4 separate regions of the Homo sapiens genome follow, and all the other regions are linked to region 3. The links come from fine-mapping of genetic effects on gene expression. A gene starts in region 3. Each other region holds a variant in brackets. All regions are shown on one strand. Distances are between the middles of the regions.

Evidence for each region. PIP is the estimated chance that this variant, and not a neighbour inherited with it, causes the effect. A credible set is the group of variants that fine-mapping cannot tell apart.
Region 1: its variant is the best candidate, but not a certain one, in a credible set for the expression of HK3 in whole blood (TOPMed, PIP 0.53).
Region 2: its variant is the best candidate, but not a certain one, in a credible set for the expression of HK3 in macrophages (Alasoo 2018, PIP 0.66).
Region 4: its variant is the best candidate, but not a certain one, in a credible set for the expression of HK3 in whole blood (TOPMed, PIP 0.73).

What each region holds. Positions count from the first base shown.
Region 1 is chr5:177,072,808-177,078,354 of GRCh38, reverse strand. It overlaps a transcript of ZNF346 not described here. Among named protein-coding and RNA genes, the nearest start is that of FGFR4, 11 kb to the left of the region's middle. The variant T/C (reference allele first, on the strand shown) is at 2,737.
Region 2 is chr5:177,063,885-177,069,341 of GRCh38, reverse strand. ZNF346 (zinc finger protein 346) reads right to left here. Exons shown (of 7, transcript NM_012279.4): 7 at 1,357-4,830. The coding sequence ends at 4,743. Among named protein-coding and RNA genes, the nearest start is that of FGFR4, 20 kb to the left of the region's middle. The variant A/CA (reference allele first, on the strand shown) is at 3,461.
Region 3 is chr5:176,896,521-176,902,052 of GRCh38, reverse strand. It overlaps HK3 (hexokinase 3), which reads left to right and starts at 2,707. Exons shown (of 19, transcript NM_002115.3): 1 at 2,707-2,786. RefSeq lists an enhancer at 1,386-1,887.
Region 4 is chr5:177,010,946-177,016,492 of GRCh38, reverse strand. It overlaps a transcript of UIMC1 not described here. Among named protein-coding and RNA genes, the nearest start is that of UIMC1, 6.9 kb to the right of the region's middle. The variant T/G (reference allele first, on the strand shown) is at 3,144.

The DNA of each region.
Region 1 (5,547 bases), 180 kb before region 3:
GCAGTGAGCTCCAGGTAGAGCCTCTGAATGTGCCTGACTGGCTGACACCGTGGCGTCTTTGCTTATGCTGCCTTTGTTGCTGAGCATTCTTCCTCTGGCCTGCCTATCTGTCCTCCCCGCTTTCCAGGCATTCTACCAGATACCTGCCATTCAGCAGGTATTTCTGGACTCCTCTCAGGCATTCCCTTTTCTTTTCTTTTCTTTTTTTGAGATGGAGTCTTGCTCTGTTGCCCAGGCTGGAGTGCAGTGGTGCAATCTCAGCTCACTGCAACCTCCACCTCCCGGGTTCAAGCAATTTTCCTGCCTCAGCCACCCGAGTAGCTGGGATTACAGGCACTCACCACCATGCCCAGCTAATTTTTATATTTTTAGTAGAGATGGGGTTTCACCATGTTGACCAGGCTGGGCTCGAGCTCCTGACCTCAGGTGATCCACCTGCCTCGGCCTCCCAAAGTGCTGGGATTACAGGCGTGAGCCACCGCGCCTGGCCAGGCATTCCTTTTTCTTTCAGATCCCTCCTGGCCACCCTAAACTGGACATTAAAACCCTTTTCCTCTCTCTGGTAACGACCCCTCAAACTTTTCTTGATGTCGTGGTCCTCCCCTACTAGCAGTCCACGGGGGACTGGATGAAACCAACACTCCTCCTTGGCATTTATGGTGGACATGTGACCCAGACCTGGCTAAGGAGAATATTCCATCTCCCAGGCCATTGTGATTAAGTCAGAGATGAGCATGTGACCATGGGAGGGCCAATGGGAGCCAGTCTAGGTCTTTTATTGGAATGAATAGGAAACCAACTCTCTGAGAAGCTGAGCTGTGAATAGGGATGCCTAGAGTTGCTTGGGAGAGCTTCTCTGTGAAAGACAGCAATAAAGGAAACAAGAGGGCCAAGAGCTGGAGTGCACCCGGATCAAGCCTTGCCTGAAGCCATTCCTTCTTTGAACATTTCACTATGTGAACCAAATAATTTTTTCTTCGGCTAATCCTTTTTCTTAAACCCTTTATAAATAAAAGGCTCCTTCTCAGTAGAACACCCTTCCTTTGTGTCTCCACTCTCCTCTGTTGGCTCTTTGGCCATAGTACTCATTTGTTTACATGGCAGCAAATTCATCCTGTTTTCACTGCTATTTGTTTAAAACCTTTTAATAAATTTCCATGGCTTTTAGGAAAAAGACCTGTATTAGTTATCCATTGCTTCATAACACATTACTTTTAAACTTAACGACTTTACATAACAAATATTTGGCTGACTATTGGTGTTAAAGAAAAAATTATTCAAAGATACTTGTTTTTATGTTTATTTATTTATTTTTCTTGAGAGTCTCGCTCTGTCGCCCAAGCTGGAGTACAGTGGCGTGATCTCGGCTCACTGCAACCTCCGCCTCCTGGGTTCAAGCGATTCTCCAGCCTCAGCCTCCCAAGTAGCTGGGATTACAGGCACCTGTCACCATGCCCAGCTAATTTTTGTATTTTTAGTAGAGACGGGGTTTCACCATATTGGCCAGGATGGTCTCAAACTCCTGACCTCAAATGATCCACCCACCTCAGCCTCCCAAACTGCTGGGATTACAGGCGTGAGCCACCACGCCCGGCTCAACGATACTTATTAAAGCACAGTAAAGAAAACTTTATTCAGGACCATTGAGATAGTCACAGGGACCACTGCAATGGGATCTTGCAGAGGGGGAGAGAGATTGGGCTCCATTCTGAATACAGCATGGGCGAGTGGGAATTCTGAGCCAAGGAACAGAGTGGGGAGCAGTGAATGGAAAATGACTAAGAGGAAACGTTGGGGTAAAGGGGTTCTGTCCAAACTGACCCAACAGGATTCTTGCTGAAGACAGGCCCATCAGCCATCACCTGGGGGATGGTGGAGGAGGAGGAACCTGATCAGATATCGAAGATGGGCGGCAGTTCTTGCTAAACTAGACTTAGCAGGTTCTTTGCTAAAACTAGATTTTACAAGGAAGTGCACAGATGGACCTAGGAGAAGGCTCAGAAGCCTGACTAAAATTTGGCCAACCAAAGAATCTTTGTCATTGGTAGAAGACCTACATTTCTCTCAACAACAGCCTCTTGATAGGGCTGCTTGAGTGTTCCCACAACACGTTAGCTGGTTTCCCTCAGAGCTGGTGATCCAAGAGAGAAATATTGAAGCTGCAATGTAATGTATAACTTACTCTCAGACATCAGATTCTTGTCACTTCTGTCTTATTCTATTAGTTAAAAGTGAGTCACAGCCAGGCACAGTGGCTCACGCCTATAATCCCAGCACTTCAGGAGGCTGAGCGAGGAGGATTCCTTGAGCCTAGGAGTTTGAGACCAGCCTGGGCAACGGAGTGAGACCCTAATAAAAAATATTAGCCAGACGGGCGTGGTGGCTCACGCCTGTAATCCCAGCACTTTGGGAGGCTGAGGCAGGTCAATCGCCTGAGGTTGGGAGTTCGAGATCAGCCTGGTCAACCTGGTGAAACCCTGTATCTATTAAAAGTACAAAAATTAGCTGGGCGTGGTGGCGGGTGCCTGTAATTCCAGCTAATTGGGAGGCTGAGACAGGAGAATCGTTTGAACCCAGGAGGCAGAGTTTGCAGTGAGCCGAGATTGCACCACTGCACTCTAGCCTGGGCGACAAGAGAGAAACTCTGTCTCAAAAAAAAAGGAAAAAAAAATTAGCCAGGCACAGTGGCGCATGCCTGTAGTTCCAGCTACTCAGGAGGCTGAGGTGGGAGGACTG[T/C]TTGAGCCCAGGAGATCGAGGCTGCAGTGACCTATGATTGTGCCATGCACTCCAGCCTGGGGGACACAGCAAGACCTTGAGTCAATCAATCAATCAGTAAGTAAAGTGAATTGCTACTTACAGCCCATATTAGGGGATATAGGGTAGAAATTAAACTTGACCTATTGAAGGGAGGAGTATTAAAAAGTGTAGATTTTTTTGTTTGTTTGTTTTTTGAGACGGTGTCTGGCTCTGTCGCCCAGGCCGGGGTACAGTGTTACTCATCTCGGCTCACTGCAACCTCTGCCTCCTGGGATCAAGCCATTTTCCCGCCTCAGCCTCATGAGTAGCTGGGATTACAGGCACCCACCACCATGCCCGGCTAGTTTTTTTTTGTATTTTTAATAGAGACGGGGTTTCACCATGTTGTCCAGGCTGGTCTTGAACTCCTGATCTCATGATCCACCTGCTTTGGCCTCCCAAAATGCTGGGATTACAGGCGTGAGCCACCATGCCCGGCCAAAATGTAGATATATTTTATTTTTATTTAAAAAAAATTCTTTTTTTTTTGAGACGGAGGGAGTCTTGCTCTGTCGCCCAGGTTGGAGTGCACTGGCGCGATCTCGGCTCACTGCAAGCTTCGCCTCCTGGGTTCATGCCATTCACCTGCCTCAGCCTCCCGAGTAGCTGGGACTACAGATGCCCACCACCATGCCCGGCTAAATTTTTGTATTTTTAGTAGAGACGGGTTTCACCGTGTTAGCCAGGATGGTCTCGTTCTCCTGACCTCGTGATCCGCCCGCCTCGGCCTCCCAAAGTGCTGGGATTACAGGTGTGAGCCAACTTGCCCGGCCAGGAATCCCTCCTCTGTCTGACCTAACTGCCCTCTGCCCTGGAGCTGCTCAGCCTCTATCAATTTTTCTGGCTCTCAGCGAACGTTTTCATTCAGTTGCAAGACACAGAAACTCAAATTCAAACCTGCTTACACAAAATAGTGAATGTACTGGCTCATGCACTTTTTAAAGAGATGAGGTCTGTTGTGCTGCCCAGGCTGGATGTGAACTCCTGGGCCTAAGAAATTCTCCTGCCTTAGTCTCCTGAGTAGCTGGGACTACAGGAGCATGACTGTAAGTCCTGGTGTGAATCAGGCTCCAGAAACAGCTTGATCCTGGTTCCCAACAGTATGGTCAAAACTCATTCTCTCTTCTGTCTTCTTCTCTATGACAGGTGCTCCCTAAGAAGTGACAAAGAAGGCCACTAACAGCTCTGGGCTCGAGACATTCCCACTTGGCAACTTCTCAACTGTTCTGGCAAAAGCCAGGAGAGTGGAGGTCTTCCCCACCCGGACTACATAAGCTGAGGGTGGGGTTTTTCAAAGAAAAGCTTATTATAGGAAGAAGGGTAAACAGACACTAGGAAGCTTCTGATTATTATACCTAGTGATTCTGTGAGCCTTTACTGCACAAACTGTTCCCAAACTTAATTATTTAAAACAATGTATTATTTCTCACAATTCTGTGATTAGCTGGGCTCAGGTGGCAGTTCTGCTTATGCTGTGGATTGGCTATGCTAGAGGGTCTGGGATGTCCTCCCTCACATGTATGGAGCTGGCTGTTGGCTTCTCTCTCTACCTGGTCTGTGGTCGCCACATGGTCTAGCCCAAACTTCCTTTCACAGGGTCAGGAACGGAAGCTGCATGAGCACTTAAGTCCTAACCTTGGAAGTCGTACAGTCATGTTACTGAATTCTCTGATCAAAGCAACTCACAAGACTAGTTCAGATTCAAGAGACTGGGAAATGGACCCCCCCCCTCCCCCGCCCGCCCGATCTTGATGGGAGCAATGATAAAGTCACATTGCAAAAGGACACAGGCACAGGGAGGCAATGATTCATGGGAGGCCATTATTGAAACAATCAACTGTGTTCCACAACTCGCCTCTTCTAGTTCCTTTCACTAAGCCTCCTCCCACCCCAGCAACCTGGCTCCTTTGACCTTCATGACCACTAGAGGATCATCTCCCTCAATAAGTCTTTCCGGCCAGGTGCGGTGGCTCACGTCTGCAATCCCAGCACTCTGGTAGGCCGAGGTGGGAGGATCGTTTGAGCTCAGGAGTTCAAGACCAGCCTGGGCAACACAGTGGGACCTTGTGTCTACAAAAAATAAGATAATTAGCTGGGTGTGGTGGTGTGCGCCTGTAGTCCCAGCTACTCGGGAGGCTGAGGTGGGAGGATCACTTGAGTCAGTGAGGTCGAGGCTGCAATGAGCTGTGTTTGCACCACTGCATTCCAGCCTGTGTGACAGAGTGAGACGCTGTTTCAAAAAACAAACAAAATAAATGTCTTTCCTGTGAAATCCCAGCAATGGTCCCTACCAGACCATACCCATTTTTATTCATTTATTCATTAATGTATTCAATCACCAAGCAGTTATTAAAACATAAGCACAGTCCTATGCTAGGGACCAGGGATGCAGTATCATAAGACCCAATTCCTGCCCTCAAGCAGTTTCTAGTCTAAAAGAAGAGACAGGGAATTAGATCATCGTAACACAGCATATTAAGGGCTATGCTAGAGGGGAACACAGGGCATCTGGGAACACAAAGGGCAGCCAACTTGGCCTTGGGGGCCAGTGATCTCTGGATGAGTGGAGGTCCCCAGGTTGACAAGGGGAGCTGGAGCAAGTATTAGGCAGAAATCTTGGTTGCAAGTTATAGAAACTCAACTGACTTAAAGAAAAGTCATAACTAAAAAGTCCTGGGGGATATTAGCTTCAGGCATAGCTGGATCCAGGTAGTCATCAGAAATGAGTCTCTCCTTATCTGGAGTACAGTG
Region 2 (5,457 bases), 170 kb before region 3:
GAGATTACAGGCATCCACCACCACGACCAGCTAATTTTTGTATTTTTAGTAGAGACAGGGTTTCACCATGTTGGCTAGGCTGGTCTGGAACTCCTGACCTCAAGTGATGCGCCCGCCTCGGCCTCCCAAAGAGCTGGGATTACAGGCATGAGCCACTGCGCCTGGCTGAAAAAAAAAAACTGAACTTCTGAGACATACAGTAACATGGGTGAATTCCACAAACTAATATTGTGCAAAATGTATGATTCCATTTTTATAAAACTCAAGAGCAAGCAAAACTAATCTATAATGATCGAGGTCAAAATAGTGGTTGCTTCTGGGGGATACTGACTAGGAGGGGAAATGAGGGAATGTTTTAGGGACCTGGCAATGTTCTGTATCTTGATCTGGAGGGTGACTGCCCCAATGTATACATGTAAGTGAGGATTCATCAAACTGAAGTCTAAAATTGGTGCACATTACTGAATGTATGGTGTACCTCAAAAAGTTAGAGAAAAAAAGGAAACAGTTAAACAATTTCTGGGTATAGTGCACAGTTGTTTTTGTCCCCCTCCCCCTGCATCCATTCCCCCTTAATCTGGAAAGAGCCCTACAACCTTCTTCTTTTGGGGTTGTATCACTCCCTCTCTCAATGTTTTAGGTGGAGCTGACTCAGCTTTAGGCACATGACCCAGGCCCCAAATCAGAGTGCCTTTTCCCCTAGCCACAATGATTAATTCAGGGATGAGAACAGGACTAAACCAGTTGAGGCAATCCCAGATATTTTGTTGGAACTAGTGGAGAAAGGTGTTCTTTCCACTGTTGTTACTAACGTATCAGGATAGAAGCCTGGGGCTGCCAGTGGCCACCTTGGCACCTCTTGGAGAGAGCTTGCCTGAGAAAGGGCACACAGAGGAAAGCAGAGGGATAGACAATTCTTCCTGATGAGACCATCTCCGAGTCTGGGTCCAGCTATCATTGTATGTGGATTTTTCATTAAGTGAATCAATACATTTACCTTTTTAGCTAATCGCTTTGATTTGGGTTTCTAACACTTTAATAATTAGAGTCTACTACACTGGGATCATGGGAATGGACAAAATTATGAGAAAAATGGAGGGACTTGGAATATAAACATTGAGCCTTGTCTCATCTGTTTTGTGGGTGCTGCCCCTGCCCTGAGTGGCTGCTCACCCTGTGAGACCATGGCACTGACAGGAGATGGGTGAGGCAGGCTGCAGGGGCCATGTGGGAGGTACTCTGGTCCTCACTCATAAAGGGTTCCAGAGGAAGTCTAGAGAACTGGATTCTACTCTCCATTTTGTCATTTCTTAGAGGCAAGACCTTGGGCAAATCATGATACCTTTTTCAGCCTTGTTCCTTCTCTCCATGGTTTTTATTTATTTTATTTTTTATTTTTTGTAGAGATGGGATTTCACCACGTTGGCCAGGATGGTCTTAAACTCCCGGCCGCAAGTGATACACCCGCCTTGGCCTCCCAAAGTGCTGGGATTACAGATGTGAGCCACCCTGCCTGGCCTCCTTCTCTATATGGAATATTAACTCTTAGCTCAAAGGTTGTTATGCAGATGAAATGCTAGCTTTCCAACCTCTCCAGCTTTTTCATGCCCTTGGCTGAGTCAGCTCCTGCATCCTGGGCATTCTTATCATTGTCATCATGATCTTTGACTGTGTGTGAACCCCTAAGGGCAAGAAAGTGTTCATCTCTAGGTCCCTTTACCAACAGGGCTGGCCACACAGCTGGTAGGGACTACAAAGTGGTCTTGCAGGCCGGAGGCTCACGGTATGATAGCCCACTCACCCCCTGCCCTTCATTTCCTTGCTTGGTAGATGGGGCTGAATCTGACATACTAGGTGGCTTAGAAGGACTCTGGGGAATTGCTGAGGCAGTCTGATCATGGGAAGCTGAGAACCTCCCTTGGGGCTGTGTAGAGCCTTTCACAGCTGACCAGGAGCAGGGGCTGAGTGGCACTGAATGGGAGCTGAGGCTGCCTGGGCCCCTTCCTCAAATCTGGCTGTCTACAGTAAAGGATGGACAAAGAGCTCTTGAGGCCATAACATTCCTTTCTTTTTTTAAATTTTAAAAATTATTATTTTTAGAGACAGGGTCTTGCTCTGTTGTCCAGGCTGGAGTACAGTGGCATAATCATAGCTCACTGCTGCCTTGAACTCATGGTTAAAGCGATCCTCCTGCCTCACCCTTCCAGGTAGCCAGGACTACAGGAATGCACCACCACACCTGGCTACCTTCTTTTAAAATTTATTATTTATTTATTTTGAGACAGGAGTCTCACTCTGTCACCTAGGCTGGAGTGCAGTGGCACGATCTTGGCTCAATGCGACCCTCCGCCTCCCGGGTTCAAGCAATTCTCTTGCCTCAGCCTCCCAAGTAGCTGGGACTACAGATGTGTGCCACCAGGCGCAGCTGATTTTCGTATTTTTTATAGGGACGGGGTTTTGCCATCATGTTGGCCAGGCTGGTCTCGAACTTCTGACCTCAGGTTATCCACCTGCCTTGGCCTCTCAAAGTGCTTGGATTACAGGCGTGAGCCACGGCGCCCAGCCTTCAAATTTATTTTTATAATTTTTTTTTTTTTTTAGATAGAGTCTTGTTATGTTGCCCTGGCTGGAGTGCAGTGGTTATTCACAGGCATGATCACAGCATACTTCAGGCTGGAACTCCTGGGCTTGAATGGTCTTTCTGCCTTAGCCTCCTGAGCAGCTGGGACTATAGGTGCATGACGCCGCACCTGGCCATAACACTCCTTCTCAGCTCATTTTTGAGTCATGAAAAATGCTCTTTCAAGAATCACCAGGCCTATGATAAGTCCCATGGAACAAACCTATCACTGTGTAAGAGCTGAGCAGGAGAAAACCATCTCTCCTCATACACCTCATTTGTTCATTCAATAAAAATTCATGACACACCACTATGGACATCAGGAAGTAGAGATGAATAAGGCTGGGTCTCTGCCCTAAGTGATTAGCCTGGAAAGCCATACTGGACACAGTGTCCATACTGGCCTCCTTGTCTCCTTTCCTGCCCCTCCCTGCACTCCTTTACATAACAGCCAGAACAGTTCTCTCAAACATAAAGCAGATCCCCAGCTTAAACCCTTTAAAGACCTTCATGAGGCCCTATGTGACAGGAGAAGCAGGAGAAGGTGGTGGATGAGAAGATGAGGCTGTACTGAGTTCAGGGCACCTGAACTCAAGGGAGACTTTCACAGGGTGCTCGACTCTGTCCCAACTCCTAAAGTGACTACTGGGGACTACTGAGGTCTGAATGGGGTGGGGGTGAGGGGTCAAGACAGACATACTAGATCCAATGGCAATATGGCTCAAAACCCTAGGTCTGTTAAGTTGTAGTCTGGCCCATGAGGGAAATTCTTTATTTGGATGCTTCAGTGACCAAGAGACAGAGCATTAGGCACACACAGAAGCACACACATACACACAA[A/CA]CACACACACACACACACACACATCCACACACAATATGCAAAGCAAAGGCATTTCACAGGTGAAGGGATAGGGAGTGGGGGAAGGAGGCCACGAGAGCAGCTAGGGGCTTCTTTGACACAATGAAGAGAAGCCTCTGATGGTGACACTCCTTGGAATTCTCGTCTCAAGGTTACAAGGAAAAATCTATCCGTGTGGACTCAGTCCCAGGCCATAAAACACAGCAAAGATAGAGAAATCTGGGTGTGGGGCCTGGGAAACGCCTGTTCCTCACTGTAGAAACCTGCATCAGCTCTCTCTTTCTTTCCCTGGGACCCAGAAATCACCCGGTGGATGATGGGGAAGGCTAGCACCACAGCAAACTGGGCAAGTGGTCCGCTGCACAAGGGGGAAGAGAGGGCTAGTAGGGCCGAGGGTAGCAATGAACCTCACAGCTAGCGGGCATGAGGCAGTCTGCCTTTAGGGGCAGAACCCTCAGGGAGACTTGCATGTGGGGCACTTTCCCGTGTAACCTAGGGTCAGAGCACCTCTGATGGAGGAGGGGAAAGGTCCCATCCCCATTGGAGTGTCCTATGATCTCAGTGGACATGGAGGCCGCCCCCAGCCCCAGCTCGTTGCCAACTGCTGCAGATCCTTAGCACCATTCAGGAACTGTGGAGGGGGCAGCGGGGGTAGCAATGCTCCGCCAAGATTGTGTCACTGCTCCAGGAGGATACTTCACAGTTGGCAGAAACCTGCGCAACTGGCCATATCTGGTCTAAGACTCAGGAAAGCCTGCACCTTCTGGGGGAAGGCAGAGTGTCGTATTAGCTCCAAGCTCCCATGTTGCAGCCATTTCCTCTGTTTCCTGCCCTGCCCCAGGTTTGGCATGAAAGTTCCAGGTTTTGCTGGAAATGTCTAGGGCCCAGAGAGATCTCTGCTCTTTAGTTGCAAGAACTGGCCCAAAACTGACCTTTAGAGGAAAGACAGGTGGCAGGGGCCTCAGCACCTAAGGCCCAGAGGGGTTGGGAAATGGGGAAAGCCACCCTCCAAACTACCACCCCGCGAGACCCCGAGTCTCTCAATACCCTTGCCTCCCCTGTCATGACCTACAGGACCCCTGCCAAAGGGGAGCAGCAGGAGTGAATTAGCCCGGACCAATGAGAGGCTGTCTGTGGCCCAATCCTGCCTCAGGCCCGTGTACTTTCCTGGTGAGAACAACGAGCAAGAGGGAGCCAAGGGCTGAGCAGTCACGGGAAGCTGGCTCATGGCTGGCCCAATATGGGATGCTGGGCAGAATCACCTCTAGTCTTCCAAGGTGGTTGAGTCTTTCTGAATGGGTTGCCTTTGCATTGGAATCTGGCCCAGGGATGATGCCACTGTTTTTGGTGACCTGTATTTGAGAAGGAACAAAGGAAGAGGGTCAGTGTGTGGCAGCTGTATTGGCCTACTGCAATGATAGCACTGCCCTTCCAGGGCCTTGGAGTAATAGACAGGACACCTTTCCTTCACTGAGGTCCACTGTGGGCTGGCAGAATGCTGGATGCTTAGCTTCCATCATTCCATCCTCATGGCAATTCTGCAAGGTGAGAAACAGCACCCTCATTTTACATACAAGGAAACTAAAGTTCAGAAAGCTTAAGTGGCTGGCCCGAAGTATGTTTTTAGGTGGTAGGTTCAGGACTGTAGCCAATGCCTTTTCACTATACCAAACCACTGCCTACAGGGCCCTATAAAAACTCATTCCATTTGGTAGTGGCAGAGTAAAATGAATGGGCTTCGAAGTCAAACAGGCTTGAATCCCAGGTCTAACTGCAAGTAACTAAGTGACCTTGGGGAAGTCAATTAACCTATCTGATAATTAGGCTTTCTTTGGTTGTAAAAGATGGGTTTGGGAGGGGGTATCCTAATTTCAGACCTTTTGTTGAGAAATTTAATGAGACTCAATCAGGTATTCAACAAATTATAGCTTTATTCTTACAGAATTAGAGGCTTTTTTAAAATTTTGAGACAGGATCTC
Region 3 (5,532 bases):
CTTTCTGTACTATAGCACACTACTTCCTACTTCTCATTTCAGTCACAAAACTAATGACTCAAGGGAAATTTCAGGTTTGGATGAGCTCATTTTTGCCTGTGAATCAGGGTAGCTTTGGCCTTAGGTTGTTAGCAGATGGGAATTTGGGGAGGGGAAGGCAGGTAGTAAGTGGATGAGAGGGTTGTAGTTGTCAGTGGAAAGATGGACTAGTGGAAAGACTGCTGAAACCATATGCACCAGGAAGACAGTAAGAGCTTGCTTGCTTCCTCTCAGTTTCAAAAGCCCTGGACTTTTTTTTTTTTTTTTTTTTTTTTTGAGACAGTCTTGCTCTGTCACCCAGGCTGGAGTACAGTGGCGTGATCTCGGCTCACTGCAACTTACCCTGCCTCCCAGGTTCGAGCAATTCTCTTGCCTCAGCCTCCCGAGTAGCTGGGATTACAGGTGCACACCACCACGCCCGGCTAATTTTTTTAATTTTTAGTAGAGACGGGGTTTCACTGTATTGGCCAGGCTGATCATGAATTCCTGACCTCAAGTGATCCGTCCACCTCGGCTTCCCAAAGTGTTGGGATTACAGGCGTGAGCCATCATGCTTGGCCAGCCGTGGACTATTGAGATTGTGGGAGGGCTCTTCAATTTAACAAAAATTAATTGATACTTGTTCCTTGCCAGATAAAGAACTGAGGTCTGAGGCTGCACGGGTGAATAAGAAACATTCTCTGGGAGCCCATAGTACAATGGGGAAGAAGAACACATAAACAGATGCCTTTAATAAACAGATATAAATGCAGTGATACAAGAACATGCATCATAATACGGAACCAATAAGCAGACCACACTCAGCTGGGGTCGGCCAGGAGGAGCTTTTCAGAGAAGGGCTCCTCATTGTCGTTGATGATTATAATTTAAGGGATGAGGAAAAATGAGGTGAAAAGGTGGGAGAGGCCAAAGGGAGGGTCATTCCAGACAAGTCAGTGCAAACAAAGACACAACAGAAGTAGCTCGATGTGTGTAGGAGAGCTGCAAGGCACATTCACGGTATAAAGGGTGTGGAACAAATTGGGGGAGCTTATTGAGGATCTCTGTGCCTGGCATGGGCACTGTGAGTGGTGAGAAGCCTGTGAGCAAGCGCAGAGGGAAGGCCTGACCTCCCAGCCCATCGGCAGTGCTCTGGTTGTGCCCACCTCTCCCCCAGCAAACTGCCTTTCCTCATTCCTTAGCTCCATCTCTACAGTTGGAGATTGGCACTAAGGGGCTATGAGGGAACCTCGTGAGGACTTGTCCTTCCCTTTGTTGGTCAGTGGCCATCTGGTGTCTGAAGAGAACCGCTGGCAGCTGCAGTGCCTCTGCTACAGCCAGGCTGTCCCAGCTGCTCACAGACCTCAAGCTCAGCCATCCTTCTCCCTCCACTGGCCTTGACCCAGACTTTCCCTGGCATTCTGACTAGGGAACCAGGACCCCTGCTCCTGGGGTCTGGACACAGACCTTCCAGAAACGCAGATGAAGAGCCCTGGCCATGCTTGTCAGGGGCATATCCTCACCCTGGCTCAAGAAATGGCAGGCTATCTGCATGAATCACAGCTGGGCCTTTCATAGTCAGTTCCACATTCTCCTCTCCCAACTGAACAAAGTTGAAAGGGACTGGGATCCCAGGCTAGGCAGGATGCTGTGTTGTTTGTGACAGCCACTCTACCCTCTGCCACCCCATCCCCCACTTCCCTGCCTTTCACAGCCTATATGCCTGGTTGGTACCCAGTAAACTTCACAGCAGGACTGATGTTTGGCATGTTTCCTGGCCTCTTCATGCCACTACTGATAGAGGAGCCACTATCTCTGGTCTCCATCCTGATGTCATGTGGAGGCCTACTATCTGTGGATAGAGTTACTGCTGACAAGGCAGCCTGAAGCTTTAAAGTGTATCCATGCCTTCAACAAAGATTGTTGCAGGCTGTCTAGTATTCTACATTGGTGCCCCAAGGTTCTGTGCCTTTGAGGAGAAATTCCCACAGAAAAACAGCTTGTTCGCCAATAGCTCCACAGCAGCCTAACACTCCCCTTCTTCCAGTAGAGAAGACCTAAGATGTGAACCTACTCTCCCTGCGCAGGCTACAGACTAAAGGCTAGACTCCGCAGTCTGCCTGTCACCTCCTCTCCCACTATATATTCCTACCTTGGTGTACCCTCTTCAGGCGCCTGGAGCTGCACCTCATTGCTGTGTGTGTGTGATTTGTGGTTGTGCACATGCTCTCCACTTTGTCAAGGACCACTTTTGTCAGCATACTGCTGTTCTTTCTTCAAGACTCAGCTTCTTCAGCTAGCCCTGCCCACTCTCGGCAGAGTCAGTCCCTTCCGCTTGTGCTCCCACATTGCCTCTTGCTCAAAAGTACTTACCATAACCTTTCCAGGCTAGGCGCCTCCAGCTCCTTCTAGGGGCGAGCCACCACCTCAGAACTCACTATATTTGCAAAATAAACAGCCCTCAGCATTGTAGAGGGAATGGCCCAAAATCTTAGACCCAGTTCAACGCTCCACTTCGCGGTAATCATCTTGCTCAAGTTTTCACCACAGCCTTGCCTAGCCTGGGCTACTCTTAGGGCAGGCTTGGAAGGAAGTGCAGCTTCCTGAATTAGCTGATGTTTGGTAAGTGGTGGTGGAGGAAAAGGGTGGGGCTTGAGGATATTATAACTCGGGTCACCCCTGAGTGTTGCTTTTGGTCATTGGGGTGCCTCATATTGCCAGACAAGAGCTCAGACCTGAGGAGAGTGACTAGCTTCTCTGTGTCCCAGGTAAGCACTTCGGTCTAATTACTGCCTGCTCCTTCCACAGCTGTCTTGTCCTCATCCCTCCTGTTTGGCTCACACCAGGGGAAGTGGACACTGGAAAGATTAAGCCAGCTGGTTCTCTTTCTTTGTTTTTGAGATGGGGTCTCTCTCTCTATCACCCAGACTGGAGTACAGTGGCACAGTCAGGGCTCACTCCAGCCTTGACCTCCTGGGTTCAAGTGATCCTCCCACCTCAGCCTCCGGAGTAGCTGAGACTACAGGCGCACACCACCACACCCAGCTAATTTTTGTTATTTTTTTCTAGCGATGGCGTTTTGCCATGTTGCCCAGGCTAGTCTCACATTCCTGGGCTCAAGCAGTCTGTCTGCCTCAGCCTCCCAAAGTGCTGGGATTACAGGTGCAAGCCACCACACCCAGCCTGCCAGCTGGTTCTCGATGGCAGCTCCCAACATCAGTAGAGGTCCCTGGGGTACTTTTCAGGAGGAAAACTCACTTCGTGTAGCCCATTCAGCTAAGGGAAGCCACGGGGCCCTTAGGCAAACAGACCCTGGGCTCTGGGGATACTGCAGTGAAGGAGACATGTCCCTCCCCACAGGGAATCTCAGTGGGAAGAGACAGAGCTGAATACATTTACCTAGCATATAAATATTAGGGCTACTTGGGGATTGCTTCACAGATTCTGTCATGTAAAAATGCTGAATAAATATTGAATGGATGAGGGAATGAATGAGTGAGTGAATGAATAAATGAACTAGCTGGGCCTTGAGAAAGACACGTGTGTAGCCCTTAGTCCTTTTCGAAGGTAATTGCCCCAGTTACCTCATTTTATCCTTGAAATAGACCTGCAGCATAGAACAAGAATTCCACACCCCTATTTGACAGATTTGGAAACTCAGCATAGGTATGTATGGTTTGGGGAGATTTATCAGAAGCTGATTTGTTGCTTTATTAAATAAAAAACTACCCACTCCCCTTGCTTCCAATTTTGGAAAGGCACATTAGCACATACCTATACCAGACCCTGTGCCGGCCATGAGTGCAGAGGTGATCAAGTTGGGTGGGGTAAGGAGGTGAAGAAACTAGAAGCAGAGCTATCAGTTTAGGAGGCTGTTGTAATAATCAGGCCGGAGGATGGTCTGGTGCAGTGTGTGGGAATGGGGAGGAGGGGATGCAGAGGAGAGCTCTTAGAGAGCCTGAGATCCAATTGCATAGAGGAGGTGAGGGTGAGGGATGCGCGCAGGCAGCCCGAACGGCCGTGTGAGTGAGCACACTTCGATGTCTCCAGTCAAGGTGGAGAACAGAAGAGCTTTGTGGGGGTAAGGTGATGGAAAAATGAGTATGGCTTTGTTGAATTTGAGGAGCTTCTCCACCATCCAGATAGTGATGTCTAACAGACCACTGGGATTTAGGATTTGGCTGAGGCCAAAGGTAGATTTGGGAGCCCTGACACAGCTATTAATGAAACCTTGGGAATGGGCGAGATAAAGGGAGTGTAGAGGGAGGGCATGACCGAAACTTGGGAACCCCATTGTCTGAAGGAACAGAAATTACTGATGAAGACTACGAGAGACTCAGGAAGGAGACCTAGGAGAGACTGGCCGTGAAAGCCAAGGACAGGGGGAATTCTGTAGCAAAGAGAATGACTACTGGCTTTGCATGCCTGAGAGAGGGCAGCAGAGGTGGGGACTGAGGAAAAGGCTTGGGATTGGGCAGTTAGGAGGTCACCAGTGACCACGTGGAGGGCAAATTAGTGAGCATAGTGGGAGTAGGCAAGGAGGGGAGTGTAGGGGTGGGAAGGTACTATATTTCCAGAAGTTCTGCTGTTGCAAGGAAGGGAGGTAAAGTGACTCAGTGGACAGATGTCTCTTCCCATATTGGGCCCTCTGCTGTGTTTCCCTTTTCCCCCACCCCTAAAGAGCACCTGACTCACTGAGGGCTCCCTTGGGACTATGGAAACAGCAATACCACCTCCAGCTCGGATGAGCGAAGTATCTGACATTTCTACAGTTCCTTACAGTGTGCAAAGGACCACTAACTCCTTTAATCCTCACAAGAACTGAGCTTTTCATGTTATAGAGGAAATGGAGAATCATAGAGTTTCAGTTCAGATTCAACTACATAAATCTGAATGCACATCTGAGCAAGTTCCTTTGCTCTCGTGATCTCATTTGCCCCACACAACCCTTTGATACATGTTGGTCCCATTTCACAGATGAAAAGCCTGGAGGTTGAGATGGGGTGCAGCTGCCTTGTGGAGAGCAGGGTTCCCACCTCTGAGTACAGGGCTCTTTCTGCTCTGCATCACTTCACTGTTAAAACCCACCTGATGTTTATGTTGCACACTACATCTCATAAAGCATTTCCCCAGGTGTTATTCTATTTAGTGCTCACAACAACCTTGTGAGGGTAGATATTATTTCCTCCTGTTTTATGGATGGAAGCTGAAATTCAAAGAAGTCATAAATGACGTCCAAGGTCAGGTCACTAGTGGAACCCCTTTCTGAAGCACAGATCCACCCCTGTCCATGACCCCTGTTGCCTTCAGGATGAAATTCATGTGCCTTAGCCTGGCACAATGGCTGTCCCTTTTCCAGCCTGCCTGCTTCTCTGGCAGGTCTTTGGTTCCCTCTTTGTTCCAAGCCTCTAGCATGTCCCTGACCTCCCAACCACAGCAGCATGTCCATCTATTACATGTGGCCATCTTGCTCACTGCCTGTGCTAATCATACTGTGATTGTTGATGAGACTGT
Region 4 (5,547 bases), 110 kb before region 3:
GTCTCGATCTTTTGACCTCGTGATCCGCCCGCCTCGGCCTCCCAAAGTTCTGGAATTACAGGCATGAGCCACCGTGCCCAGCCTGGATAATTTTATAGTATTTTGTTTGTTTGGTTTTGTTTTGTTTTTGAGATGGAGTCTTGCTCTGTCATCCAGGTTGGAGGGCAATTACATGATCTCGGCTCACTGCAACCTCTGCCTCCCAGGTTCAAGCGATTCTCCTGCCTCAACCTCCTGAGTAGCTGGGATTACAGGCACCAGCCACCATGCCTGGCTAATTTTGTATTTTTAGTAGAGACGGGGTTTCACCATGTTGGTCAGGCTGGTCTTAAACTCCTGTCCTCAGGTGATCCCCCCACCTTGGCCTCCCAAAGTGGTGGGATTATGGGCATGAGCCACCGCGTCCTGCCTCTTTTTTTCTTTTTTGAGATGGAGTCTTCTTCTGTTGCCCAGACTGGAATGTGGTAGCGTGGTCTCGGCTCACTGCACCCTCAGCCTCCCGGGTTCAAGTGATTCTGTCTCAGCTGCCTGAGTAGCTGGGATTACAGATGTGCGCCACCACGTCTGGCTAATTTTTTAATTTTAGGTAGAGACAGGGTTTCACCATGTTGGCCAAACTGGTCTCGAACTCTTGACCTCAAGTGATCTGCCTGTCTCAGCCTCCCAAAGTGCTGGGATTACAAGTGTGAGCCACCATGCCTGGCCTAATTTTATGGTATCTTTAGGGACGCAGGGAAGCAGTGTCTTCAGGGGATGCCAGGTTTTAATTTAGAGACTTTCTAAGGACAGATTGAGGGCAGAGGGGAGTCTGTTGATCACAGACTGGGATTTACAGAGGATTTTGGGTTAGAGTCAAGTAATGCTTTCCAGCCTTTTCTCCATTATAGTCCACATAGAAAATGAGCATATCTGTATAGCATGTTAGAGTAAACAGATAAGGTTGCTCCTCCTCATCACTGCAGTGACAGTTTGGGAATTCCAGCCACTCTACATGCCCCGCTGGGCCACCCTTGGAGCTGGAGGGATGTATGTCCAGAGCCATATCAGGAAGAGAGTCCAGCTGCAACAGATAGCCGTCATATCTTGAACCCTGACAATGTCTGAGGCAAGCAGGCTGGGGATTAACCACAAATCTCTGAGAATTGAGCAGTTAACGCTGTGTGGTACTTAGCTTGACATGTATTGCTCCATTCTGCATGCATGAGTTATGTGATCTTAGGTAAATTCCTTAACATTTGTGAGGCTGCTTCTCCATCTGTAAAATGAGGAGATGATACCCACCTCAAATGGTTGTTGTGAAGATTAACTAATATAATCTCCGTAAACTACTTAGCACATTGCTTGGCACATAGTAAATGGTAGCTATGTAGTTTATTCCAAAAGCTATATTTTTCTGATAATTTAACATACTGATGTATTTTTAGTAGAGATGAGGTTTCACCATGTTTGTCAGGCCGGTCTCAAACTCCTGACCTCAGGTGATCTGTTCTCCTTGGCCTCCCAAAGTGCTGGGATTACAGGCATGAGCCACCGTGCCTGGTCTATACTCCTTTCTTACCTGCAGTACTTCAATGGCTTCTTGTTGCTTACCGGATAAAGTTAAAATGTCACGTGGTATAAGAGACCCAGTATATTCTACTTCCTTTTCCACCCACTTCCAATACTCTCTCAAGTACCAAGCCCTGCTGGATGAACTTTAGCACTGTGGTAGGTTCTCCAACTGGGGAATCCTTTCACACCCCTTTGCCTTTATTCATTCTATTCCCATTGCCTTTATTTATTTATTTATTTATTGAGATGGAGTTAACGCTCTTTCACCCAGGCTGGAGTGAAGTACTGTGATTTCACCTCACTGCAACCTCTGCCCTCCCAGGTTCAAGCGATTCTCCTGCCTCAGCCTTCCAATATTACCTTTAATGTCCTTCTACCATCTCCTGTTGTCCATTTGACAAACTCATTCAACTTCCACCCCAAGTTTCAACCACAGCATTACATATTGTGCAGAAAAGAATTAACATAGTAGGTTTGAGGCTATAGTAGACCTTTGAAAGGTCTGCTCTCAAGTTTGGCTTTTGGCTGGCATCTGGGAACTTGGATTTCAGAAGTGTTTCCAAATTCCATATAAAAGTGGCTCACTGCAGCTGGGCACAGTGGCTCATGCCTATAATCCTAGCACTTTGGGAGGCCGAGGTAGGTGGATTGCCTGAGATCAGGAGTTCGAGACCAGCCAGGCCAACATAGTGAAACCCTGTCTCTACTAAAAATACAAAAAATCAGCCGGGCATGGTGTTGCACGCCTGTAATCCCAGCTACTTGGGAGGCTGAGGCAGGAGAATCGCTTGAACCGGGGAGGTGGAGGTTGCAGTGAGCTGAGATTGCACTCTAACTTGGGCAACAAGAGCGAAACTCTGTCTCAAAAAAAAAAAAAAAAAAAAGAAAAGAAAAAAAGTGGCTCACTGAGTCTAAACTGTTTGTGCAAACAATATAGTTTATGCTGAACATCTACTTTCCTTCTGGGAGTGTGAAACTTTGGTTTGCACTAGGCAGAGTGGTAAGCTAGGCAGCCTGTGTAACTGACCCCTGATAAAACCCTGGATTCCTAGGCTCAGGCAAGTTTCCCTGGTAGATACCACTTCACAAATGTTGTCACAATTAGATGCTGGAGGAATTAAGTGACTCCACTGGGAAGGTACTCTTGAAACTTGTGCCCAGTTTCCTTTGGACTTCATCCCAGGTGCTGATTTTGCTTTGTATCCTTTGGCTGTAATAAATCATAGTGTAAGTGCTGTAGTTTGAGAAGCATTGGTTGCTTTTTTCCTTGTGGTTTTTAGCTTGTATCTCTATTGGCTGTGTTTCCTTTAACTGGAAGTTATATCTAAACACTTGGTGTATTTAAGTCAAATATTTTGGCTAGAATACGTCTTTGGAGATGTTGCATGATTCATGTTGTGTAGCATCTGAAGAACATAATAACATCATATCTGATTAATTCGCCAAGTGAAGCTAAATTGACCACCGGATTAGGGTAATGGTAGTTTAAACCTTCCATTATGTAAATAAGTTTCCTCTCTTATGATCAGAAAGTATCTTTGTGTGTGTGTGTGTGTGTGTGTGTGTGTGTGTGTGTGTGTTTGGATGCAGTC[T/G]TGCTCTGTTGTCCAGGCTAGAGTGCTGTGGCATGATCTCAGCTCACTGCAACCTCCGCCTCCTGAGTTCAAGCGATTCTCCTGCCTCAGCCTTCCAAGTAGCTGGGATTACAGATGTGCACCACCAAGCCCGGCTAATTTATGTATTTTTAGTAGAGCCATGTGGGCCAGGCTGGTCTCGAACTCCTGACCTCAGCTGATCCACCCAGCCTCCCAAAGTGCTAAGATTATAGGCATGAACCACTGTGCCTGGCCCTTTTTTTTTTTTTGATACAAGATCTCCGTCTGTCACCCAGGCTAGAGTGCAATAGTAAGATCATAGCTCATTGCAGCCTTAAACTCCATGGCTCAAGCAATCCTCCTGCCTGAGCCTCCAAAGTAGCTAGGACTATAGGCACATACTACCAAGCCTGGCTAGTTTTATTATTCATTTTTTGTAGAGATGGGGGTCTCACAATGTTGCCCAGGCTGGTCTGGAACTCCTGGCCATAAGTAATCCTCCTGCCTTACTGATTTTTAAGGTAAGAGCTTGTTTAAACATCTACTTTGAATGGGCACAAATGAGTTTTTACTTTTTTGAATATCATTATGGAATAATTTATTTTTTTCATTGATTCAGTGTGGTTTCTTTTTGTGTGGTTTTTGGGTTCTTTTTTTTAGACAGGGTCTAGCTCTGTCACCCAGGCTGGAGTGCAGTGGCGCGATCTCAGCTCATTGCAACCTCCACCTCCTGGGTTCAAGTGATTCTCTTGCCTCAGCCTCCCGAGTAGTTGGGATTACAGGTGCCTGCCACCGCGCCTGGCTAGTTTTCGTATTTTTAGTAGAGACAACATTTCTCCATGTTGGCCAGGCTGGTCACGAACCCCTGGCCTCAAGTGATCCACCCAGCCTCCCAAAGTGCCGGGATTGCAGGTGTGAGACACTGCGCCTGGCCCTGAAGTCAGTTTCGAAGTCAGTAAGACTCCATGACCCATTGAATCTGTGGGGAGAGGGGCTTTGTGGTGGTGGTCTAGGAGGCTTATAGCTTGAGGGAGAGTGGATAGTAATGTCACTAAGAGAGACAAATAATGTGTTAAATATACAGATTTTGAGGGGAAGATCATAAATTTGGTTGTGAATGTTCTGGGTTTTAACTTTATGTGGGACATAACAGGTGGAAAAGTCAAGTAGGCAATTGAGATTCGATGCTAGGAACCAGGACAGGAAAAACAGATTTGGATGCCAGTCACCAGGATGTAGAAAATCTCCCTAGCAGGGTGCGGTGGCTCACGCCAGTAATCCCAGCACTTTGGGAGGCCAAGACGGGCGGATCATGAGGTCAGGAGATCGAGACTATCCTGTCTAACACGGTGAAATCCCATCTCTACTAAAAATACAAAAAATTAGCTGGGCGTGGTGGCGGGCGCCTGTAATCCTAGCTACTCGGGAGGCTGAGGAAGGAGAATGGTGTGAACCCAGGAGGCAGAGCTTGCGGTGAGCTGAGATTGTGCCACTGCACTCCAGCCTGGGCAACAGAGCGAGATTCCGTCTCAAAAAAAAAAAAAAATTAAATCTTCACAATTTATGTTCCTCTGCCACGGCTCCAGCCGGTCCCTCCGTTTGGGGTCCCTGACTTCCCGCAACACATCTCCAGAACTCTTTTCACCGTGTTGCCTGTGCTTTTGATGTCATATTCAATATATTATTGCCAAATCTAAGGTCATGAAGATTTTCCCATATGTTTTCTTCTAAGAGTTTATTATTATTATTATTATTATTACTTTTTTAAAGACAAGGTCTCACTCTATTGCCTAGGCTGGAGTACAGTGGCTCAATCATAGCTCACTGCAGCCTGGAACTCCTGGGGTCAAGGGATCCTCCCATCTTAGCCTCCTGAGTAGCTGGGATTATAGGTGCACACCACCATAGCCAGCTAAATTTTAAATGTTTTTATAGAGATGTAGTCTCACTATGTTGCCCAGGCTGGAGTATAGTGGCTATTCACAGGCATGATTATAGTGTACTACATCCTTGAACTCCTGGGCTCAAGTAATCCTCTCACCTCAGTCTCCTGAGTAGCTGGGACTACTGGTATGTATCACTGTGCCCAGCTTATAGTTTATTCATTTTTAATTACACAGTAGTGGTTCTTTTTTTCTTTTCTTCTTTTTTTTTTTGTGACAGGGTCTTGCTTTGTCACCCAGGCTGGAGTGCAGTGGAACAACCTTGGTGGCTCACTGCAACCTCTGCCTCCCGGGCTCAAGCTATCCTCCCACCTCAGCCTCCCGAGTAGCTGGGACTACAGGTGCAAGCCCAAGTCCAGCTAATTTTTGTATTTTTTGTAGAGATGGGGTTTTGCCATATTGCCCAGGCTGGTCTCGAACTCCTGAGCTCAAGTGATCTCCCCACCTTTGCCTCCCAAAGT